5 separate regions of the Homo sapiens genome follow, and regions 1, 2, 4 and 5 are each linked to region 3. The links come from fine-mapping of genetic effects on gene expression. A gene starts in region 3. Each other region holds a variant in brackets. All regions are shown on one strand. Distances are from middle to middle. Region 1 overlaps TRIM44 (tripartite motif containing 44). Region 2 overlaps TRIM44 (tripartite motif containing 44). Region 3 holds the start of TRIM44 (tripartite motif containing 44). Region 4 overlaps TRIM44 (tripartite motif containing 44). Region 5 overlaps TRIM44 (tripartite motif containing 44).

The links. PIP is the estimated chance that this variant, and not a neighbour inherited with it, causes the effect.
Region 1: its variant is the best candidate, but not a certain one, in a credible set for the expression of TRIM44 in whole blood (INTERVAL, PIP 0.57).
Region 2: its variant is the best candidate, but not a certain one, in a credible set for the expression of TRIM44 in tibial artery (GTEx, PIP 0.76).
Region 4: its variant is the best candidate, but not a certain one, in a credible set for the expression of TRIM44 in aorta (GTEx, PIP 0.73).
Region 5: its variant is the best candidate, but not a certain one, in a credible set for the expression of TRIM44 in whole blood (INTERVAL, PIP 0.58).

What each region holds. Positions count from the first base shown.
Region 1 is chr11:35,799,999-35,805,104 of GRCh38, forward strand. The region is part of intron 4 of TRIM44 (tripartite motif containing 44); the gene reads left to right. Among named protein-coding and RNA genes, the nearest start is that of TRIM44, 140 kb to the left of the region's middle. The variant G/A (reference allele first, on the strand shown) is at 2,094.
Region 2 is chr11:35,813,068-35,818,173 of GRCh38, forward strand. TRIM44 (tripartite motif containing 44) reads left to right here. Exons shown (of 5, transcript NM_017583.6): 5 at 1-4,940. Among named protein-coding and RNA genes, the nearest start is that of LDLRAD3, 130 kb to the right of the region's middle. The variant T/C (reference allele first, on the strand shown) is at 2,515.
Region 3 is chr11:35,659,699-35,664,804 of GRCh38, forward strand. TRIM44 (tripartite motif containing 44) reads left to right here and starts at 3,077. Exons shown (of 5, transcript NM_017583.6): 1 at 3,077-4,082. The coding sequence starts at 3,414. RefSeq lists enhancers at 2,734-3,053, 3,265-3,765 and a silencer at 3,094-3,473.
Region 4 is chr11:35,707,428-35,712,533 of GRCh38, forward strand. All of the region lies in intron 2 of TRIM44 (tripartite motif containing 44), which reads left to right. Among named protein-coding and RNA genes, the nearest start is that of TRIM44, 47 kb to the left of the region's middle. The variant T/G (reference allele first, on the strand shown) is at 2,825.
Region 5 is chr11:35,788,586-35,793,691 of GRCh38, forward strand. All of the region lies in intron 4 of TRIM44 (tripartite motif containing 44), which reads left to right. Among named protein-coding and RNA genes, the nearest start is that of TRIM44, 130 kb to the left of the region's middle. The variant A/C (reference allele first, on the strand shown) is at 2,116.

The sequences.
Region 1 (5,106 bases), 140 kb after region 3:
CACTAGGTAATGATCAGGCAGTACTGTGTCTGGAATTTATTCCTTCCAGTGGGTTCTTGATCTCGCTGACTTTCAAGAATGAAGCCGCGGACCTTCGCGGTGAGTGTTACAGCTCTTAAAGGTGGCGTGTCCAGAGTTTGTTCCTTCAGATGTTCAGATGTGTCCGGAGTTTCTTCCTTCCAGTGGGTTTGTGGTCTTGCTGACTTCAGGAATGAAGCCACGGACCTTCACGGCGAGTGTTACAGCTCTTAAAGGTGGTACAGACCCAAAGAGTGAGCGAGCAGCAAGATTTATTATGAAGAGCGAAAGAACAAAGCTTCCATGCTGTGGAAGGGGACCCGAGTGGGTTGCTGCTGCTGGCTCAGGTGGCCAGCTTTTATTCCCTTATTTGGCCCCACCCACATCCTGCTGATTGTTGTGCTTACAGTCCTTTAGCTAGACACAGAGCACTGATTCGTGCATTTTTACAGAGTGCTGATTGGTGTGTTTACAATCCTTTAGCTAGACACAGAGCACTGATTGGTGCGTTTTTACAGAATGCTGATTGGTGCATTTACAATCCTTTAGCTAGACACAGAAAAGTTCTCCAACTTCCCACTCGACCCAGGAGGTCCAGCTGGCTTCACCTCTCAGTACCGGGCATCAACCCAGTATTTGGGCCCAGCCAGAAAGAGGTGAAAGGACTTGGAACATTTAGGCCATCCTTCAGATTGTGGTGATGGGATAGAGAGGGGCACAGGAAGCAAAGAGAGACAGCTGTATGAATGAGAGCAAATTAATTAGCTCAGCAAGTCTATATGTTGGAGGGAAGCTTTCTTAGTTTTTGTCTGGTTTGGAGTTTTCCTAAACTTTGCTTAAAATGCAAGGCATCCTAATTTCCCAGATAAGGATACTGGGTCCTAGAGTCACACAGCAGAACCAGGACTAGAACTCTGGTATTTTCATCATGTTTTTCTCAGTTAGCCCAAAATAGACCAAGGACATTTTACTTTATTTTGTAAAGTTCAGATCCCTTAAAGCACAGTAACCTCCTTATTTTCAGCTCAGGCTGTTGGGGCAGGTGAGTGTGGGACAGAGGGGACAAAGAAGGCAACTCGCTCTGTCTAGTAAAGAAAGGTCCCTGGATCCGAGTGTTTAGTCTGTCTCCCCAGCAGTGCTGATCGCATATTTACTGCAACTAGGCAACCACTTCCTCAGATACTGAAAGTGTGAGACTTCCCAATTGGCTCCTTGTACAATGCCCAGGCAGTGTAATTTTTGGAGAATATTAAATCTATCTTTTTGAATTTCAGCTGACTCTAGCCTTCGTTCCTTGTCAATACCTCTTAATTCCACCATCCTCCTGAGTTAAATAATCCTTTTACAGCAATAATCAATTAATAGATAACCAAGAACTCAGAAGACATGAGTGATGCCAAGTCACATTAAGTTGTACTATATGCTTAGGAAAAGAAACTATTAAACTTGCAAAGTCAGAATGCCTGCTACCTGATTTATTAACTTCCCCTTTATGCCCCTAAAGCTCTGGGGACAGAAGCCAAAAAGCTAAGCTGCCTATATATGCAGCCTAACTAAAAAATGGTCACAGTGAAACACTGTAAAATGATTATGATAAAATATAATCATTTTATCAGCAGGTGTTTAGGGTCTGAATGTGGAGCTTATGGCATGCCTCTGACATTTCAGTTTCACAGGCACCACATCAGACAGTAAGCCCAACTCAGAGAAGGGATACAGCATTCTGCTTACTGGAATGCCTTAGTCTCATTCTGTCACCCCATCCCCTACCCACAACCAAGAAAGTGTTAAATTTCACACCATCCTCCTGGTCAGAATTTAGGAGCTCCCAGTTCCTTTAGCTAAACTTTTTTGTTTTACATCCCCTAAAAGAAATTTTAAAAGTATGTGCCTTTTTGCCCGTTTTTAAATTAATTCCTGAAATCATAGTATCAAGTGTAAATCGTTGCTAAGGGTGTGCTCACTGACATATTGTGTAGTTTATATGAGTTTTTATATATATTTTTGTCAAAACTTTGGCACTGTGAATTTAGCTTATTAAATTTACAAGCAAAGGTGCACTATATAATCTAATT[G/A]GCAAAGCCAATTTTGGTGGTCAAACCATCCAGCCAAATCAGACTTGCTTTCTGTCAGATTAAGTCTGATTTCATTTTTTTCAATACAAATAAACATTAGCACACACCTCATGATAACCACCTCACTTTTGAATTTGAAGTGTTAGATCGATGGATAGATAGATAAAACACACAGCCTTGCCAAGAGTTTCCTGCCTGAATGAAAAAAGAGATTGTCTCCTTTACTATTGCTTGCGGTTCTCTCATAGGACTCCTCTAAGGGAGACATTCTAAAATTGTTACATGCTAAGATTCAGAAGGGTGAGTGAGAGTAGCATTTCTGCGGAAGTGTGGGAGTATGGTGATCTGTAAAGTGGGAGTGGCTGAAACAAGAACCTTACAGAGCACAGGCATGTTTCTGAGAAGGTAAGTTTTAGGAAGCAGTATATATGGAAGTTAAGGATTTGGACATTAATTTTCTTAAAACTACCCAGGCCCAAATACTTCCTGGAAAGTAATTACATACCACAAGGGTATCCATACCCCAGTTTTAAGGCCACCACTTTTAGATACAGCAGTACCCTCAAACTAGATCAGTGACCGAGCTAAGGCCGGTTAACTAAACTTCACTCCGTATTTGTTCTCCCCAGTGTTTGGCAGGCATGACTTTTCTTGAGACCTGCCACCTAGAAGGGTCAGAGTGATACTCAGCCTTTCTAGTTAGTACCTGTATTTCATTAGGTCTGGGTTGTCATTTAAAAAACTCTCCAAGTGAGCAAAGCAGGATACTGTTGCTCTCCAGATATTTGAAGGGTATTTGGGGATAGGAACACACTTGTTCTGGAATGTAATGTTTCAGCTGCCAGAGCTAGGAACATTTGAGGGAAAGGCAGGAGGAGGCAGGTTTTTATTCAGGATAAGAAGGAAGGTGGGTTGAGGAAGAAGGGTAACATTTTTTATCATTTGTATTGCATAAAATACATAAAGCTTTCACAGTAACCCTGGAAGATAGCATTTCGATGAGGAAACTGAGATTCAGAGATGTTAGTGACTTACGTAAGATCCCACAGTTTATTAGTTAATAACAGGCATTTGAACCTAGTTCAGTCTGGTGACACAAAAGTAATTATGTAATGCTGCCTCTCTCATTGGTAAGTACCTGCTATAGAACGTGCTGTCTGCCTAACACCCTTAGTTTATTTAAAAAAAAAAAAAAAAATGAAACAGCCATTAACCTCTGAGTCCCACTCCAGTTGTAAGTCTAAGTGTGACTGGCAGGTGTTTCAGAGGAGCATGATAAGTGGCTGAGGTAGAAGGCTGTATTACTTCCCTTGCAGAAAGTGAAGACTTTTATAGACTAAGATAAAAATCTCATGAACAGTCAGGCATGGTGGCTCATGCCTGTAATCCAGCACTTTGGGAGACTGGGGCAGGCGGAATCACAAGGTCAGGAGTTCAAGGCCAACGTGGTGAAACTCCAGCTCTACTAAAAATACAAAAATTAGCTGGGCATGGTGGCATGCACCTGTAATCCCAGCTACTCAGGAGGCTGAGGCAGGAGAATCGCTTGAACCCGGGAGGCGGAGATTACAGTGAGCGAAGATCGCACTGATGCACTCCAGCCTGGGTGATAGAGCAAGACTCCATCTCAAATATAAATAAATAAAATGAGATAACCTCATGAACATAGATGAGCTTATATACAAAGTTTATATACAAAGTGAAGCAAGAACATTCAGGAGAGGAGATGATGCCTCACACTAATTATATTGTTGAACCCTCCAGGAGAGACGACATACAAGCTGAGCAAAGCTCTGTGTTATAGATTCAGTTATGATCCCTTTTCTTTTTCATTATTGTGAGAAGTGGGTTATTATAAAAATAAGATGCTTTCTTTGAAGGTACTGTTCTGGGAAGAAAAAAAAAAAAAAAAGGTTCTTCCTCCCTCCCCTGAGCCTGTATCTCACCTACTAGGCTTTAAAGTCCTAGAGGGCAACTCCCGTGTTCATCTTATTCATTTTTGTTTCTAGCATCATGACTTACACATGGTTGACAGTCAACAAATATTTAGCAAATGAAGTAATCAATAAATGATATGCCAGTATCCTAAGATCTCATGTTTTAAACTGTGAGATAAATTTCAGGCCCAAGAACACGTCTCTTTTAGGTTAACGAGAAAAGATTTTATCAGTTCAGACTTCAGACCTTTTCCCCAAGCCACTCTCCAAATATTATAGTAAAGAACCTGGCAACCAAAAAGAGTTTATTTATAATTTGGTTATTCCCAATTTGGCAAGAGAGTTGTTGACTTCTTTGAAAATATGATGAAAAGTATGTCTTCTCTCAGACAAAGGAACACACAGATAAAATTCTGTATACAATTTCATTAGGTCCATGAACGTTTAAACTATGTCTCACGTTAAGAATGCTAAAAAGTGAACTGCAGCTTAGGGCAGAGTCACCATGCTGCCCTCATATTTGAAATAAAACTGACAAGAGAACAATGAGAGCTTGCTTTGGATGTAATACCAAAGGGGGAGAATATGACGCCAGTTCCAGCTCTGCCTTGATTCTGGTGAGAAGCTTTCATAAAAGACCCTGTGTTCCCTTTGGGACAGATGCCATTAAATACTGCTTCTTAATGACAGCCCACTGTCCAGCATTTCCAGCATGCACCCTTCATCCCATGATTGTATAACCAGCAGGAAAGGGGAGTGGAAACAGGGCAGAGTTTGGAATGGTGAAGATTATTGAGTTGGTTCTTTTGGCTCCTAGCATACACTTAACTTGCAGGACCTGTTTCTTGAAATGTTTCTGCCCTTAGTGGAAGTTCTAGAAATTTGCTGCCTAGGATATTTTCCCTTAAAGTCTTTCCCAGATGGATGCAAAAGAGCACAGGTTTTATATAGACATAGATAATCCCTTGTGAGATGAAAAATTTCTAGGTAATAGCTGGGAGCTGATGTTCTACAGGCCTTTTCCTTTTCTACCAGCTTGACCACTTCAGACTTTATCCAACTGAAACTAAACCTTG
Region 2 (5,106 bases), 150 kb after region 3:
GGAAAGGGACAACAGCAAAAGGAGCTTATCTGTTTTAAAGTTCACTTACTGAGTTCAGCTGTCACGGCCACAGCATACCATTTGCCTTATAAAAATGGCCCACAACCTTCACAATATTTTAGGATTCATGGCAACTCATTTACCTAGGGCTTAGCCACCTGATAGCTTTACCTATCCCTATTTCCTGAACACAAAATCTAAACCAGTGGTTTGACAATGAGTAACTGAGACAGAACTAGAAAAATCTAGAACCTCTGCTGAACCCATCAAAAGTGACTGAGAATTAAGAAGTAAGCAAACAAGGCTTCCAACCAATTGAAATAAATACCATGAAGCAAACGCATAAGACAAAGGCCATACATCTAGTCATCAGGCACCTCCTCAGAACCTATTTGCTCTTCCTTCACACATATTTCTAACTGTAAAGGAAAGAAACAGACTTTTAGAGGAAACAAGAAGGAAAAAGGAGGACAGCAATAGAGAAAATGGAAATTTTGAGTAGACTGCAAAGCTCCAAAGCCCTGATATATGGGTTATTTAGTGTCAAAAACAGTCTATACACATCTCAATCTTTAAGAGCCTCACTGTATCATGGGACAATATTCTATTTAAAATGATGACCCTGTGCACCATACATAAAAAAACTATGCTTAGAAGACAAAAATATGTATATCAAACATTTTAGAAATATTTACATCCCAATGGTTAAAAAAAAAAACTTTTAGGAATTAAAAGGAATAAACCTTTGACCATCCAGAATATTTAGCTAAATCAAACAGTGTATATCCCCCTAGCTGACTTTTATTGTTTCATGAGCCTCTGGTGTTCAGAGAGTTTTTTTCACAGCTTTGTAAGTGACTTTCATGCTACAGTGCTTTGCATATAATGGCATGAACAGTGGAGGTGCCAACTTTCCAATGTGATGAATAAAACTAATAACTAGAATACAGATCAAATTCTGTTACAACAAATACTGCTACCATAAAAGTCACTTAAGCATCCCTGTTAGTTCTAAGCCCCTGTCGATTGCCCATTTATTTTAGGCAATAGTCATTCAACAAAATTGGAGCATAATAAAAAGAAACTGGACCTCAGCGCAAGTTGAGTGTTACACAATTTAACCTGTAATAACAGGTTCTCACTTGTATTTCTCCAGCTCTTTGCTGTAAGAAGAATAAACGTTATGTAGATATAATACCAGCGTGACAGCTTGTGGTTGGTGGTTTCTAGAAGAAATAATTCAGAAGCAAAAGACACATGAAGTTATGTGGCAGTTCCTCACTAGGGAATTTGGTCTCCAGGGCCACTTTTGACCTTAATCCATGTTGGAGCCATCAATCAAAGAATTGCTTGCATCTAATAATGGTGTAATGCCAATACTAAGCCCTGGAACGAAGATAGGATTCATTTCTCATGGATTATTGAGCACTCTGGGGTAACCTGGCCCTGATCTGATGACGCTAAGATTTAAAAACCCAGATGCATGTGACTAGAACTATCTTTTCTCCCATGATGCACTGCTTTCAACACTGCATGACTGTAAAAACATGTGCCACGCTGATTATATATAGAGATGGTCTAAATCAGCTGCATCCCATTTGGTACCCAGGCAAGGATTTTTCCATACCTATCTTTTTGCTGGTGGTAATGATGAGTTTTGTCACTTGCTATAACATTCTCTGTCCGTCTTTTTTCTTTTATGTAAATACTTTTGTGACTTCATTGTAACCAGCATTTTGTAATACTCTTAACAGCAGAGGGGATTAAATCATGATTCACTTCTGAACAGTACAATCAGCAGTAGGAAAACGAGGAGGGAGGGAGAGGGAAATTGTCCACCACTTCCCAATGATAATGCCTGGCTCGGACCCCAGATTCACATCATACTTGAAGTTCATAAATTCTGGGCACTGCTCAGCTTGAGGAGGCAGGCATTGCTCCTTCATATTTCAGGGTGAGACAAATGCTCTGTTGAAGCCATGCCACTACAGGATACATTCACCTCTGCTTGCTTTCCTCCCTAAGCCAGAGTGTAGTTAAACATTTATATGTCCCAGGCCAGGAGATCAAATTAAGAGGAGGTTAGCTACTTTCCCTGGCTCTTAAAAACATTTGAGTCCAAGTATGGTTCTCTGGCTTGAGGGTGGCCATTTGTTGCCTCACTGTTTTTATTAGGACATCTGGAGATTAGAGGTGTTAATTGGAAGTAACTTTTCTATATTTGGTTTCTCTCCACACATTATGAGACCTTTTAGACCCAGTTGGATGGCTGTATCCTAGTATGAAATTCAGCTTCTAAGTAGGAAGAACTATGATAGAGGAACAAGATTGCTCTTTGACTTGGTGATAGTAGGGCAATAGGGAGTGTCAGTAGGGTAGTTTCAGGTGGGGAGGATGACAAACCACTGATAACAATAAAAATGGGTATTTCTCAACACTCAAGCCAATTTCCCATTTGATAACAAGTAGGTTCTGATCTATTTTCCCCAAATTAATATTTTCCCTGGAAGATTC[T/C]GACCTGTCTGATCAAATAAAGGCATTCCTCTGAGAGTATACCTAGCCCACTTGTGGCCAAATTATACTTGACTGTTATGTACTCAAAACAAGCTTTCCTGTTAATCTCTTTCTCTTACCTCTATTATGAGGACAAGACGTGGAAGAATTAGGTCACCGGGGCATCTGCCATTGCATATGTTTAAGTGGTATAAAGAAGCCAGGATTCCTAGAATGGTCTGTCTTTTGCCATTTCTGGGACAATGAGAAAATCCATCTGGAGTGTTTATGCCCCTCTGAATAGCCAAGTCATGGGCTTGTTTGCTTTCAGTCACTGCCTTCAGAAAAAGACAATTTTACAATGACTTACTTCTAATAATCACTGAAACAGCCTCATGAGGACATGCAAAACTGCTGTCTATCTTCAGACCTGGCCCATTGTCAAATGGCAGACTTGCAGAGCAAATAAGGGACCTGGCCTAGTTCACAAGGCAGTCAGAAGTGATCCAAAGTTCAGGCTCCCCCTCCCTTTTATCACTCCACCCTGCCTCTACTCCTCCGCCTCCTATTCTTCCGGCCTTTCCATCTGGAAACCATGAGCCTCATGGATTCCAGGCACAAATTCTCAGATTTCAGATGTTTGGGAAATTTCTCAGCTTGGGTCATTCTTCAAGAGTAAGAAATTGAATTTGTGAGAAAAAAAAACAGCTGAGACTGTTTCACAGAAGAGAAAATAAATAAGGTGTGGTGCGTATCCATCCTCTTCCCAACTCAGCTCCAAAACCACACACAATGTCTAACTTCAAAAAGAGTATTTAGATCCCCCCTGGGAAGGAACAGAATGGAAAAACAATCTCCACTCATAAAAACACTTTTCTGCCTTCTACAGTATAAACACAACTGGCATCAGATAATACAATGTAATTGATTTTATGTGTGTAATTGGGGAACAGAAGGGTCTCTAGAGGGTAGACCTAAGAGTAATGGAATGGAGTGAAAAGTAAAATTTAGACTAAATTGTTGGGAGGAAACTGTTAACATTGTGAACCACTTGACCCTAGTGTTGCATCTTCACAAAAAAGAGCAATGTGCCGTCTTCTGTCTTTGGAAAATGGGACAAGCTTGCTCCTGATACTAGGTTTTAGAAGCATACAGACTTGGTTTTAGTACTGGCTTTGTTCTTTACTAACTCTGAACAATTAAATGAGCAGATGGTCTACAGGGCTTAGTACAGTGCCTGACACATAGTAAGCACTTAGAAATGGTAGCTTCTGACTGTTGTGCTGGAGTCCTGTTAGAGATTCAGTAGATGGAGCCACCTTCATGTTGCCCCTCACTGAGCTGCTCTGCTCACCTCTAGATGCTCCCCATGGCTGTTTCATAGCCCTCTGTACCACATCCCCATGTACTTTTTCATATCAACGGTAAGTACCTCAAATTACCGTATGTATTTACTTGTTCATAAGGTTGATGTCTGTAACTCTTTGAAGGTTGTATTAGTCGTTTGCTCCTATATTACTAATGATGACAAAGTCGCCTGACAGAGTAGATGTTCAAATTTATGGACTTAAACTGACTGACATCTTGATAATGCCCATATCCAGAGGTACTCCAGATATTATATCTTCATGCAGAAAACTGAAAGATACCTTTAGCTACATCTACCCCAGAATGAGTGTCCAAAGCAGGTGGCACCACCAAAAGGCACCTTCTTTTCCCATGAAAAGAGGGAAGAGAGTTGAGAAGCCTCACTCCCATCCCTGCTCTGCCACTGACAAGTTGTGTGGCATTTGGCACATCATGTTCTCTCTCTACATGCGCCTAAAATGACGGGTAGGGTCAGAGACATTGGAGGATCTCTCTTTTCTCTTCCACCTCTAACACGGTAAGATCTTAGCAAAGTAAAAAGGACAGTGATAACAGAAAAATTGTTCCTCTAAGAGTCCCAAGTCATCTTTTTTCTCTCCGTGTGTGTTAGCATTTGTGTGTGTCTGTGGGTGTGTATGCATGTGTGTGGAAGCTATACAAGGAAAGCTGAATCCATATGTAGACTTCATGGAGACTAGTACTGCTCCAAATGTGCACAAGCCATGTGATATGGTTTGCCTCTGTGTCCCCACCCAAATCTCATGTTGAAATGTAATCCCCAATGCTGGAGGTGGGACCTGGTGGGAAGATTGGATCATGGGGGAGTTTTCTCATGATTTAACAACATCCGCCCTTTGTTGTCATGATAGTGAGTTCTTGTGAGATCTGGTTGTTTAAAAATATGTGACACCTCCCCCCACCTTCCTTCTGCTCTGGCCATGTAAAGTGCTCACTCCCCCTTTGCCTTCCACCATGATTGTAAGTTTCCTGAAGCCTCCCTAGAAGCTGAGCAGATGCCAGCATCATGCTTGCTGTGCAGCCTGCAGAACTGTGAGCCAATTAAACCTCTTTATGAATTATGCAGTCTCAGGTGTTTCTTTATAGCAGTGAAAGAACGGACTAATACACCACGAAAAAAAAAAATGTACCACAGTCAAATAAACTGGGAAGCAAAACAGTGGGCCAAACAAAGTTAAATAGGTTTCTTCCCTGTAGAATTTCTGGGAGCTTTTAATATGTTCACGT
Region 3 (5,106 bases):
TTAGGTTATAAAAGACATTGCATCTTCCATCTTGCCCTCTCTTGGATCACTTGCTTTGTGAGAATTCAACTGCCCTGTCTTGAAGACATTCCAGCAGCCCTATAGAAAGTGGTGAGGCCTTTTGCCAACAGCCATGTGAATGAACCATCTTGGAAGCAAATTCTATGCTTGTAGGTAAGCCTTCAAGTGACGATAGCACAGCCAACATCTTTACCAAAATCTCTTGAAAGACCCTAAGTCAGAACCACTCAGCTAAGTCACTCCCAGAGTCCTTGCTCACAGAAACTATGTAAGATAATAAATGTTTATTGTTTTAAGCTGCTACATTTTGATGTCATTTTCTATGTAGCAATAGGTTAATATAACAAGGGTGCTATTTGTGGACACTCCCAAAGATACTAATTCCTGGGGAATCAGATGGTTCGGATTTCTCTGCAGAGGGGTACAGAGATCTGCCTCATTGAGTCTGCCACACCTTGTCACCAGAAATTTATGGAGTCCCTTTTTAATAGTTTAATCTGGCCAGGTGTGGTGGTTCATACCTGTAATCCCAGAACTTTGAGAGGTCGAGGCTGGTGGATCACTTGAGTCTAGGAGTTCGAGAGCAACCTGGGCAACATGGCAAAACCCCATCTCTACTAAAAATACTAAAGGTAGCCGGGCATGGTGGCACACACCTGTAATCCTAGCTACTTGGGAGGCTGAGGCAGGAGAATCGCTTGAACCCGGGACGCAGAGGTTGCAGTGAGCCAAGATCGTGCCAACGCACTCCAGCCTGGGCAAAAGAGCAAGACTCCATCTTAAAAAAAAAAAGTTTAATCTGTCTGCCTCTAAGACCCTTTCTCCACAGAGTGCTCAAGAAGAATTGTAAAGTGTCAGATACTGAACTGCACAGTATTATATTTTAACTTTCTGTCAGATAACATTAAGAAGAAACAGTAATAACAATAATGATGACATGACTCCCCCTCCCCTCATCAAATACCCTGGATACAACAATGTCCTTTTAAGATATTAAAAAGGCCAGGCCTGTGGCTCACACCTATAATCCCAGCACTTTGGGAGCCTGAGGTGGGAGGATCACTTGAGTCCAGGAGTTCAAGACCAGTCTGGGCAACATAGTGAGACCCCGTCTCTACAAAAAATACCAAAACAAGTAGTGGGGCTTAGTGGCTCACGCCTGTGGTCCTAGCTACTTGGGAGGCACTTGGGAGGACTGCTTGAGCCCAAGAGGCTGAGGCTGCAGTGAACTGTGATTGAACCACTGCACTCCTGCCTGGGCAACAGAGAGAGACCCTGTCACCAAAAAAAAAAATAAATAAAAAAAATAAAAATTATTTTCATTGAATAAAAGACTTTCTAAATGTGAGAACGTTATGTTTGTAAAGGCTAAGTTGTTTCCTTTTAAGCCTGGGGGAGGACAGGAGTAGAAATAACCAAGCAAGGCACACTTCTCATTAGGTATATTAACGTTGATGTTTGAGTTGACATTTGTTGAATTTTTTTTTTCAGAATGGTGCTTCAATTCATGTTTCAAAAGCAGACACAGAAATAATTTCCAGAGAAATGAGCTGGGGGAAAACAGAAATGTGTATGGAATTGGAACAAAATAAACCTGATTTTTTTCAACATTGTATAGAATTGTTCTGAGGTTAAAAAGAAAGGTTTCTAAAAAATAAATATCTAACAAAAGCTGCACAAAGATTAGGCATACATTATCCATGGAGACATTAAAAACTATTAAAAAGGTTTTTTTACCCCACCTCATCCCCTGGTATGTTTGAGGAAAGCATCTGGAAATTCTAACTCAAAATCATCTAAGGGAATCAATGTAAAACAGACACCATTCCATCCCCTTTCATCCTTCTTAATACACCTCAGCCTCTCCCTTGACTAGATAAAAACGTAATTTTCCCTCTCCCAAATACAGTGCAAAACAAAAACTCTTCTGTGAATGGAGAGACATGGATATGGGGTAGAGGTGGAGACTTGCCTACATTACCAGCAGCCAGCCGAAAATGCCCTGTGTGTGTAAAATATGTTCCTTCAAAGGGGCATTGTGAGCACTAAATATAATTTGTGCCAAAAATAATAATGAAAGCTTAGTGAATACTCTACAGTGCAGGCATCGTTACATTTAATCCACAAAACTACCCCATGAGGTAGATATTTACCGTTCTTTTCACTTAACATCTTTTTTAAAAAGCGGAAAACAGAATGATGAATTAACTTGTCCATGGTCATAAAACTGATAGGTAGTGGCACCAGGATTTGGGGACCATCGGGCAGAGGATCTTCCAAAACCGGCTTTTAAAGAGCCACAAAAAGATGTAGCCGGGTTCTTGGCACTACAGTACTGCTTTATAAACAACAGTTCCCTTCTTTTCTCTTAGAGCCCAGTGGGAATCTAGAGGGACACCTTACATAAAGGAAAATGACTGCAACCTGGACCTGTCACTCGACAAATACTGCCTCTCCCCACCTCACTTCACCTGACGTCTCTGCCCAACCGAAGGCAGCTCTCAGAAAACCGCACAGAGGTTACCACCCCAGAAATTCTGAGATCCTAGGAGGTAGCAATGCAAATAGACAAAGCACAGTATTGCTTTGGATCGAAAATATTTGTTTGCTCATCCTAACTCCAATTCCCCTAGCCTAGAACAAACATAGCCCTTCCGCACTCAGGAAATCCCAAGAGGTCAGGTTCAGTCTGGTAAACAACACTGTCCGGGCACCTTGCAGAACACTGGGGACTGTGACGGGCGGCGACAAATTGGCACAAGAGAGACTGAAATGCACAGGGACACCAGCCTAGTGGCCGTGAAAACTCAAGTTGACACTTCCAGGGAGGGAATGGGGGAGGTGGAGCCCAATTCCTGCTTCTGGAGAGAGTAAGAGACTTCCTCCATCCTCCTTCTCCCTCCTCCTCCTCCAAGGCACGCTGAGATTTGGAGCGGAGGAGCTGAGCCCCGCGGGAAAAGCAGAAAAGGGTCATTGCCACTTTAAATGACTCAGGAAGTAAAAGGAGGCCTCCTGACGGGGAAAGGGAAAGTGGAACCGGGGCGGCGCGGGGGCCGGCGGCTGCCGCGATCTCTCCCTGGTAGCGGGAGGCTGAGCGGGCGGCGCGACGCGGGGGCCGACGGGGGCGCCGGGTGGCCGCGCCGGAAGTGCCTTGCGCGGCAGAGGAAGCGCAGGGACAGAGCGGAGCAGGCCGAGCCGGCGGAAAGGGTCTTTGCTGCTGCGCCCGGGCAGGGGCTGCCGCGGCCCCAGGTCCCGCTTCGAGACGCGGCGCGGTCCAGGCGGGAGGCGACTCCCTAGGAAGGGACCCGGGGCGGGAGGAGGAAGTGAGGCCGCGCGGAAGGAAGGCGGCGAGCCCCGGGGCCCCGAGGCCTTGGCCGCGTCACAGCACCCACATGGCCTCTGGAGTGGGCGCGGCCTTCGAGGAACTGCCTCACGACGGCACGTGTGACGAGTGCGAGCCCGACGAGGCTCCGGGGGCCGAGGAAGTGTGCCGAGAATGCGGCTTCTGCTACTGCCGCCGCCATGCCGAGGCGCACAGGCAGAAGTTCCTCAGTCACCATCTGGCCGAATACGTCCACGGCTCCCAGGCCTGGACCCCGCCAGCTGACGGAGAGGGGGCGGGGAAGGAAGAAGCGGAGGTCAAGGTGGAGCAGGAGAGGGAGATAGAAAGCGAGGCAGGGGAAGAGAGTGAGTCGGAGGAAGAGAGCGAGTCAGAGGAAGAGAGCGAGACAGAGGAAGAGAGTGAGGATGAGAGCGATGAGGAGAGTGAAGAAGACAGCGAGGAAGAAATGGAGGATGAGCAAGAAAGCGAGGCCGAAGAAGACAACCAAGAAGAAGGGGAATCCGAGGCGGAGGGAGAAACTGAGGCAGAAAGTGAATTTGACCCAGAAATAGAAATGGAAGCAGAGAGAGTGGCCAAGAGGAAGTGTCCGGACCATGGGCTTGATTTGAGTACCTATTGCCAGGAAGATAGGCAGCTCATCTGTGTCCTGTGTCCAGTCATTGGGGCTCACCAGGGCCACCAACTCTCCACCCTAGACGAAGCCTTTGAAGAATTAAGAGTAAGTATTGGGCCTTCAGAGCATAAACCTAGGGGTCAGGACACCTGGGTTTCAACTCAGGTGGCCTGGCTGTGACCACATTCGCTTTCACTGTGTCCCTAAGAAGCTAGTCTTTCCAACTTTTTGGGAGCAGTTCTTATTCACCGTTTTTGGTTGAACTCTTTTGAGAATCTGATGAAAGTTCTGGACTCTGACCTGAGAAAATACACACAAAATCTAGTATACAATTTCTAGAAAATTGCAAGTTTCTGGTCTGTGGATCCCAGGTAAAGCATTTCTTGGGAGTTTTGACCCCACTTAGGCCAATTTCCACAGCATCACTATTGTTGAAACTGGTGCTTTGTGCTAGGGCTCTTGATAAGGCAATCTTTTTGCCTACTTGAAAACATGGGAAATAGGATTTTGCCACATGAATCCAAGCAAGTGATACGTCTGCATTGAAAAGACTAACAAAATAGTTTTAATAGTAACTTCATATGTGCCCCGAGTTCATTTTAGATTCTTCGTGTTTGAAACTTAGTAGAAAAGGAGGGTAAGAAGATGGAGGCCAAATTGGGGTGGGAGTGGAAGTTCCCATGTCCTCTGTCTGGATCTTTGTCTGTCGTGGACCTTACTGGTCCCCCAGAACAGTGGACACTTCGGAAATATTTGTTGAATGAATGAATTTGCAGACGATGCACCTTTTATTCATATTGTGGATGTTTACTATCATTGAGAGAAACTGCTGGTGTTAATCGGGGAGGGAGGGGGAAATTTTGAGTGGAGTGATCAGTTCATTAAGTAATCTGTATTAGTGAACATTGTCATATTATGATGACTTTTGCTTCCCTGAATAGGGAATAGCTGGCATTGGGATAACAAATACCTTGAGAGTGAAGATCCTCTGTATTAGGTTTTCCCTTTTTTAGTGCCTATTTATAATTGTAAAATGCACATTCAGAAAGTGTGTAAAAACTTACAGTCTAACAAATAATTATAAAACAAGTACTGAGGTAGTCTCCATCCAGATTAAGAAATAGAACAT
Region 4 (5,106 bases), 48 kb after region 3:
GGAACCAAAAAAGAGCCCGCATCACCAAGTCAATTGTAAGCCAAAAGGAAAAGCTGGAGGTGTCATGCTACCTGACTTCAAACTATACTACAAGGCTACAGTAACCAAAACAGCATGGTACTGGTACCAAAACAGAGATATAGATCATTGGAACAGAAAAGAGCCCTCAGAAATAACGCCGCATATCTACAACTATCTGTTCTTTGACAAACCTGACAAAAACAAGAGATGGGGAAAGGATTCCCTATTTAATAAATGGTGCTGGGAAAACTGGCTAGCCATATGTAGAAAGCTGAAACTGGATCCCTTCCTTACACCTTATACAAAAATTAATTCAAGATGGATTAAAGACTTACATGTTAGACCTAAAACCATAAAAATCCTAGAAAACCCAGGCAATACCATTCAAGACACAGGCATGGGCAAGGACTTCACGTCTAAAACACCAAAAGCAATGGCAACAAAAGCCAAAATTGACAAATGGGATCTAATTAAACTAAAGAGCTTCTGCACAGCAAAAGAAACTACCATCAGAGTGAACAGGCAACCTACAAAATGGGAGAAAATTTTTGCAACCTACTCATCTGACAAAGGGCTAATATCCAGAATCTACAATGAACTCAAGCAAATTTACAAGAAAAATACAACCCCATCAAAAAGTGGGCAAAGGATATGAACAGACACTTCTCAAAAGAAGACATTCATGCAGCCAAAAGACACATGAAAAAATGCTCATCATCACTGGCCATCAGAGAAATGCAAATCAAAACCACAATGAGATACCATCTCACACCAGTTAGAATGGCGATCATTTAAAAAGTCAGGAAACAACAGGTGCTGGAGAGGATGTGGAGAAATAGGAACACTTTTACAGTGTTGGTGGGACTGTAAACTAGTTCAACCATTATGGAAGTCAGTGAGTGTGGCGATTCCTCAGGGATCTAGAACTAGAAATACCATTTGACCCAGCCATCCCATTACTGGGTATGTACCCAAAGGATTATAAATCATGCTGCTATAAAGACACATGCACATGTATGTTTATTGTGGCACTATTCACAATAGCAAAGACTTGGAACCAACCCAAATGTCCAACAATGATAGACTGGATTAAGAAAATGTGGCACATATACACCATGGAATACTATGCAGCCATAAAAATGAAGAGTTCATGTCCTTTGTAGGGACATGGATGAAATTGGAAATCATCATTCTCAGTAAACTATCGTAAGAACAAAAAACCAAACACTGCATATTCTCACTCACAGGTGGGAATTGAACAATGAGAACACATGGACGCAGGAAGGGGAACATCACACTCTGGGGACTGTTGTGGGGTGTGGGGAGGAGGGAGGGAGAGCATTAGGGGATATACCTAATGCTAAATGACTAGTTAATGGGTGCAGCACACCAGCATGGCACATGTATACAACTGTAACTAACCTGCACATTGTGCACATGTACCCTAAAACTTAAAATATAATAATAATAAAAAATAAATAAAAAATGAAAACACATTAAAATAAATAAATAAACATGCACTGATGTTGCCATGCCCCCCCCCCAAAAAAAAAGAACTTTACTGAGAGGAGGACCTCTACCCCAATCCCTTCCTTTACTCAGGTAAAACGTACCCCATTACTTATCCAAAGTCAGCCAATTGGTGCTGCAGTTTATTTCCTTTGGATGGGGATAGTAACTAAGCTGAAAGATTAGCAGATTTAATTTTTGGAGGCTCTCATTTGTAAATGCACTTCAGTGCATTGTTGTTTATTCAGAACATTCTACTGTAAGTTACCTTTAGTAAGATTTTGTCATTTTCTGTGAGACTTTGCTGCCTCCTGTGCCTAATGCATAAGCCAGAAGGAACTCAGGTTTTCAGAAGTTATGTATCCCATTTTTACATAAAATATTGGCTTTGCTCTCAGATTCCCTTGATTAACCTAGCCAATGATTTTTCCTACCTAAGTGGGCAAGAAAAATGAAACAAAGGGATGAAACAAAAAAATCCTTGCAAATCTTTAAGAGCTAAATTTTATACCCCTAAAATATTACCATTTGCTGTCAGTTTCTTTCTGACCCAGTCAGATGTAAGAGGCCTCTAACTGGATCCAAGCCAATTAATTACCAGACCAAATCCATTCCTGGACCCAGCCCAGTTTCCGTCATGACTTCCAAACCCAGTTTGGTTCAGAAATTTGCTCAAAGAAACTCGGAGAGCTCAAAATGCAAATCCGTGGGGCTCCAAAATCCAAGAGACAACTTACACTCCCCAGCTACTCTGAGAGATCAGAGGACACAAGTGGATCCTGTGGGCACCTTACTTGTTCACTCAGCACTCCTGGGGGTCGTTAGAAGCTATACTTCAGACCCCACTTCTGACACCATTTGTTTAAACAAAAACGTCAGCTGAATTAAATTTAAAGGAGTCTAATTGAAAAATGAACAATTTGTGAATCGGGCAGCCCCCAGAATCACAGCAGATTCAGAGAGACTCCAGGGATGCCTTGTGGTCAGAACAAATTTATAGACCAAAAAAAAGTAAAATGACATACAGAAATTGGAAGTGAGGTACAGAAACAGCTGGATTCATTACAGTTCAGCAGTTGCCTTATTTGCACACAGTTTGAACCCTCAGCAGTGTGTGACTGGATGAAATATGGCTGCTGGGATTGGCGAAGACTCAGTGATTGTTACAGGCGCATACTCCTAAATTAAGTTTTCAATCTTGTCTATTAAGTTAGGTTACAGTTCATCCACAAGGACTCAAATATAGAATTACAGAGTCCTTTTCAGGCCATATTTAGTTTGCTTTATATATATA[T/G]AGAGAGAGAGCTTTGTATCCTACCTTTTTCACCTAAGGTTATCTCTTATAAATGGATACAATTTTATCATTTGAATCCTGTTCCATTGTTGAACCTCAATTTAGAAAACTGGGATTCTGAACAATAATTTTCCTGTCTACCCTTCAGCATTCTTAGTTGAGACAAACCCTTTTAACAAAGACAGATTATCAAGAGAAAAACAAGTTTATTAACATATATACCTCGTGTGTGCATGTGATACCTAAGGGAAGATAAGTAAATCCCAAAGAGGTAGCTTTGAGTTCAGGCATGAATACCATGGAAGGGAAGGCTAGTTATGGGGAGATGCCCAGGAAAAGCATAGTAAACAAAGGTAAAGTTTATTATGCAGATTTAAGTTGGTGCCTTCTCCATTTATAACATAAAAGAGTTTCTAGTGATTGGAAGTCATCCTTCTCTTCCTGGTATAGAGAGGGAGACAACCCTGCAAATGGAGATTTCCTTTACAGATGTACATTTCTCTTACAAAAGGGTAACTTCCCTTGTTTTCAGTACTTCTCCTGTATTTGCAGTTTCTCCAAATAATCAGCTCAAAACAATTCTTCTGCCAAAGAGGCGTATTTTGGGATGGAATATTCTGGCCTCCTACAGTCATATTTTGGGATAGCATATCTTGAACCCCATCAGTAGTTACTGACAGAAGTTATTCACAAAAGACCAAATATATGATTCTATCTATATGAAATGTTCAGAATAGGCAAATATATAGAGATAGAAAGAGACTCAATACTGTATGGGACTGAGGGAGGTGGAGGAATGTGGGGTGACTGCTAATAGCAATGGGGTTTCTTTTGGGGGTGATGAAAATGTTTTAAAACCAATGGTAATGATAGTTGCACAACTCTGGGAATATACTACAAACCACAAAATTGTATACTTTAAATGGGTAAATTGTAAAATATGTGAATTATATCTCAATAAAACTGTTGAAAGAGAACAAGATTACTGCCTGAATCAGTTTTTTCAACCATTCACTTGAAGTGTCAGCAGTGAATATTAATTTTCTTTTTCCTTTTCTCTTCCTGACAGGGATGAGGGTTAAAAACCTGATGTTGGCCTCTGACAGGAGGAGGCAGTATACTACAATTATTAAAAGTTCAGGAATTGCCCTATCAGCTCAATGCTATCTGACCTTGGGCAAATCTGTGCTTAATCTCTTCATTTCTCAGATTTTTTGTTTTTTTTTTTTTCAGTTCCAAAATAGGGAATAATAGTACATATTTCATAGGTTGTTGGGAAAATAAGTGAGATAATCCTTTTAAAGTGTTGAGTACATTAAGGAGACCCCCCATCTCTACTAAAAATTAAAAAAAAATTAGCCAGGCATAGAGGCACATGCCTATTGTCCCAGCTACTTGGGAGACTGAGGTGGGAGGATCTCTTGACCCCAGGAGATCGAGGCTGCAGTGAGCCATGGCTGTACCACTGCACTCCAGCCTGGGCAACATAGTGAGATCCTGTTTCAAAAAAAGTGCAGAGTACAGCCTCCTATAAATTGTGGCTGCTGTTAGCCTCCAGTCCGGAGAATAACCCTTACTTCCAGCAGAAGGGCAAGGGTACGTGAGGGCACCTTCCTCCCCACAAAGTTCCAGAAACCTTCCAAGCCTTGTAGAGAAAAATAAGCCACCTGTTTATAAATAATTCTATGCTTTGATCAATTAACACTTCCTAGGAATAATGACACCAATTGCATGTTTTAAAGGGCCATTGATACCTGTTTGAGTGATAATGACTTGCAAATAAATTGAGTTCAGTCTCCACTTTTGGGATCCCTTGGTGTGTGGTTTGTTGGCTCACTCACTCTGTGAGTGAACTTGCCTGGCTGCAGAGTAACTGGCAGTAGTTCAGCATAGGTCTGTTGCCTGTTCAAGTCAAAGCAAATGTATCTGCCTTGGGAGTGTGTAGTTGTGTGTCCATATATTCCCAATAGAAAGAAGAAATCAATGCATTGAAGCAAGTATGTTTATTGTTATGAAGCAGACTCCCTAGTTAGCAGAACTGCTTGGTGCCCAACTATAAGAAAAATAAAGAAGTTATTTTAGGAATAACTTTACTTAAAGTTATTTAAGAAACACATTAGGAAATATATTCCCACTTTAAAGTAAACGCTACTGAGATTCTTCACTCCCTACCTCCTCTTCTCCCTTCCCCTGCAGCTTTACCTTATCCTTCTCTTTCTTACTGGAGCCCCAGACCTCCTAATTGAACCACAGCACCAATAGATTATAGTCATTTAAAAACT
Region 5 (5,106 bases), 130 kb after region 3:
CAGCCATGTTGTGACCATTCATGCCAATTAAAATGAATAAGAACTAAGTGATCGTCTTGCCTTTCACACAAACCAGTGGTTCTCAGCGTTGGTTGCTGGACCCCTACAGTTAATGGCTCTATTTCCAAAGCCTGGTCTTTCCATCCTCTTCAGTGGGCAAAAAGAGGCATGTGATTAGCCACCAGAGGCCTTAGTCCCACCAGGGCTCTGAGCTGTATCAGAAATCAGACTAAGGAGAGGTGGCTGGAGAAGCAGTTTGGGAAGGACATAAGCTTTCTCTTTACAGCTGAACATAAACTAAGTTGTTCCACAGGCTTTGCTTAAACTTTTACAGACAGAATTATCACTCTTCTTTTTAACTCCTTTTTTCTTTCTTGTGTATATTTCAGCCTGAGGCCCTAAAAATAGTTTTTTTATAGAGGAGTATCTTTATTGTCTCACAGCAAATATTTTTTAATTTGAAAACAACTCTCAAAAGAATTCTCTCATCTTTTCCCCAAAGTGGTTGACTGAAAAATATTTATTTTATTGTCATTCCCCTCCTCCTACCTGTCTCTGCTGGGCTGAGTGAAGATTGCAGTGGAATGTTTTAAGTAGTGAGTGGGTGAGTGGCTAGGGAAAGTAAAAGACCTATGCACCTCATGCTAACTTCTCATGTTAGGGTAGAAGAGCCATCTGATATATTTATTGTTCTATATTAAACTTGAGTCTGATTGGGACTGAGAATGTGAGAGCCTTAGAAATCATCTAATCCAAGGAGGAAGAAGGGGACACAGCAATATGTCATGAAAGTTTAGTATGTGTAGGGTAGTGCTTCATACAGCGTTTAATGAGAAAAGTGATCACTTAATAGTTTACCATGTGCTATATGTTTTTACATTCATTAAGCACCTGGGAATCATTGATCCTCTTTCACAAGTGAGGAAACTGGGACCCAGTGGAATAAGTTTTGCCCAGAGGGTACTCAGTTAATAAGTAGAAGAACTGGATTCAGCCTTGATTTCTCTGGCTGTGCACTCCTGCTCCTCTTAGCCTAAAAGGCAAGGTTGAGAGTTCTGACAGCAGGGAACCTTGTCATCCAAATTACTGACAGTTGCCCCTCAGTTAAGCCGTCTTAGAGGGCGACCGGGCCTTACTCAGTTCTAAGAGGCATATTCCCCTGGTGCTCCTTAGGGTATTTACACTGTTCCTTCTGCCTGGGCCCTGCAATTGGGCCAATGGTGAGCAAGTGCTTTCCAGGTATCGTAAATACATCTTATGACACTTGATTTCTATTGAAATCAATCGTAAATACGATAGATTTCTATTGAAATCTATCGTGAATACATCTTATGACACTTGATTTCTAAGCCATAAACAGGTTCTTCTTCATATAGATGAAACAGGTTTGAAGTTGTAGAATTATGTCATTTGGGTGCCACAGAAGAGCCGGCTTCTGGAAAAACTGGGAGGAGGGCAAAATGTGTCTTTAATAATCCTTATTTGCTTCTTTCAGTGCCCGGTACTTATGCCCTAGTCCTGACCCTTTAAAGATTATCATTTCTCTTCCCCCCAGCAAAATTTAACCTCATCGTAAGATGACAGCTGGCTCATCCAGAAACTCTTCTGCACTCAAGTGGTTTATGGTGTGGTCCCATGGCATACTCTTGTCTTGTAATACATACTGATTTTTAACTAGGGGCTGAACTGTAAGGAACCTTCTAAGTGCAACACCTTAGACTACAGGAACAATTTTAATAGGGACTTTAGGCTTAATGGCTTATGGGAGATCTTTTGAAAGTGGCAAAGGCCTTGCTGTTTTTCACATGCTCTCATGTTTGGCATCTGTTACCTCCTCCAGTACATAGAGCAGTCCTTTGAATTCAAAGCACTGGACTTTGTTCAATCTTGAGATTGGGTAGTGACATATAAAGGATGGAAAGCTGCAGTCTTCAGTTCCTCTCTTGTCTCTGCTTCAGCTCTATTTGATGTTTTTATGTGTTTTGGGTCATCTAATGGTGACCAGACTAGTGCTGTCTCTCATCTGACAGCACTGAACTGCAGTACAAGGAGAGCCTCTGGTAAGATTGGCTGAAAGTAAATTGATGTGGTGTTCATCTCTTTGCTGTCTACATC[A/C]AGCAACCCTCCTCCCAGGAGGGGCAGATTTCATATAGTTCAGACCTGTTGACTGTATCATGAGCTTTTGGAATATTGAGGTTGGAATGCAGGTGGGGATAGCTTTCTTACCTTCTTTTCCGTTTCCTAGGGAAACTCATAACAAGAACACTTACTAAAAGGGCAGGGGTAGAACTGGGTAGTAGTAAACAGGGAAGGAACAAGGCAGTAGGAGAACAGGGACCCTCTATTCCCTTTCATAAACGTCCACTTCTCAGTTATACTCATCTGAGAAGACATGCTGGCAGAGATGCTTGAGTTATTAACTAGGCATAAGACACCTCATAGTTTCTTGTTTTTTCCATTTCAGAGCCCTCCCACTGTCCCTGGCCCAGACTTTAGACTCCTGGACAAGTGAGTCTGGCTTTGACAAAGAGGGAGCCCTAGCCTCTGCTTGGGAGCAAGTGTCCATTTGCTCCAGACCCCCAGCATCATGACATTGGCACCTGTAATACTCTTCCAAGCTGAGTTGTAGATCTGTGCTGACGATGTAATCACATTTGAGCATCCTAATGCCTGCTGGCCCCCATGTAGGCTTTATATTGAGTTACCACTGGGTGTTTGTTTTTCTTTTTTTCCTGAAACATCTGCTTGTGCTGCCTCAGGGAGTGTCACACAGAACACAGCCTGTATATTTTAAGCATAGCCCTTGTTCACATTTTGAAGTGCTGGCAATGTGGTAGATGCCATATGGAGCCCTGACACCCTTCTCACCTCCTGTTCTTTCCCATCTACACCCCCCGCCCTGACATTTTCTTAGGAGACACTTCAAGCATGACCCATAAAGATAAGCATTAGGAGCTGCTGATGAGACACGTTCTCTCACTGGACCATCGCACATTTTATCTCAGCCATTCTGAACTTTTCACAGCTCCTTGAACATGCCAAGCTGTTTCACATCTTCAAGAGTTTGTTCAAGCTGTTCCCTCCACCTGGCATACCCCCCGCTCCTTGCCCCGTTGTCTTCCTAGAAAATACCAATCCATCTGTCAACACTCAGTGATAAAGTCTTCTCTGACTCTGTAGGTGGAATTTAGCACTTCTTCTCTTATGGCTCATAGCTACATTCTTTGCTATACTGTGAGCTCCTGAATGGTAGAGATATCTGATACACCACTGTGTTCCATCACTGGCATGTATTTGGGGCTCAGTCACTGTGAGGTGAAAGAATAGCCACTGACTTCAGGAGGGGAGTGATACAAAAACAGTTGAATTTAGTTGAGTACTCATTAGGCAGCAGGCTGAACACATTATATCCATTATCTCATTTAATATTTGCATCAACTCTTAAGAGGTAGATCTTAATACCATCCCTTCCTGAGGAGTTGCCCCTACACACACACACACACACACACACACACACACACACACACTCTCTCTCATCATTCTCTATTCCAGCATCCTGGTTTATTTTCTTCATATCCACTATCTGAAATTATTTACGTGTTTGTTGTCAACTTACTGGAAATTAAGCTCCATGAAAACAAGGACTTTGTCAGTCGTTTTCACTGCTATTTTACCTATTTGAGTGCCTTATATACTGTGGGTACTCAATAAATACTTGTTCACTGAAAGCACAAATGAAGGAATGACTCCCCATTTCACAGATGAGGAAACTGAGGCCTAGATGTTAAATAGCTTTGCCAAAGTTACACAGCTCAGAGCTGAAGGGCTTGGATGGTAAGTAATCCTGGTCTCATTCCAAAGTGGATGATCCTAACATATTATACTACCTCCTGTAGGAATTCTTCAAGTAGACAGATCTTAGTGCTCGTAGAGAAAGGTATGCTTTCCTGCTGGATGTAGTTTTTACCTTGAAGGTTTACCTTCCCTGCCTCTTATCTCACCAGTGAAATCCCTCCTTCTGGGCCAAAGCAAGTTATGAGAGCTGCCATATGCCAGCTGCCAAATGTCTTCAGTGCCAGGCATGTTGCCAAACTAGGGGTAAAATAGTGAATGAGAAACAAATGCAGCCTCCAAAGAGCTCAAGTGACAAAGACTGACTTTTACAACATAACGGTGCTGAGGTGCACTGAAGCCCTGAACCTCTGGAGGCTGCAAGGATAGAGCAGTGATGTGTCAGACCACCTGCATCACTGGTTCCCTGATGGCACTTAATTCAAATTTCATCCTTTGGTAGGGTCTAGTGAAAATCAGCTCAAACCTTGAAAGATATTTCTATGTAACCTAATTAAATGAGTGAGACCTTGGTGCCTCTCACTGCAGGACAGGCAGGATTGAAAATGAAACCAATATCTGACCCAACGAGATTCTGTCCTAAGTTCAGGGGAACAGGTTTTGGTGGCAGGCCCTTTTACATGACTGTTTGCTGGAGCCCACAAGAACCAAGATGAGAATCTGAGGGAAATGGCCACTTTGCAGCCAGGTTACAACAGGAGAGTCATGACCGGCTGCAGTTATAAAAACTGAAAAAAAAAAAAAGAAATCTAGCTGTGCGGCTTCTTTTTTAAAAAACAAACAACAAATAAAAAGACACTATTGGGGCCAGGCATAATGGCTCACACGTGTAATCCCAGCACTTTGGGAGGCTGGGGCAGCCGGATCACCTGAGGTCAGGAGTTCGAGACCAGCCTGGCCAACATGGTGAAAACCCGTCGCTACTAAAAATACAAAAATTAGCCTGGCATGGTGGTGTGTGCCTGTAATCCCAGCTACTCAGGAGGCTGAGGCAGGAGAGTCGCTTGAACCCAAGAGGCGGAGGTTGCAGTGAGCCAAGATTACGCCACTGCACTCCAGCCTGTGCGACAGAGTGAGACTCTGTCTCAAAAATAAATAAATAAACTAAGAGACTATTGGGATCCCCTGTAACGAGGAGAAAGTTTTCGAGTAATTGGTGCCCAGACTGGAGTTTGAGTCTGCCAAGGCCTTGGAACATCTTTAGCAACAAGGTACCAGTTACCTCCTCTGCTACTAGTAATGAGGCATTACCAA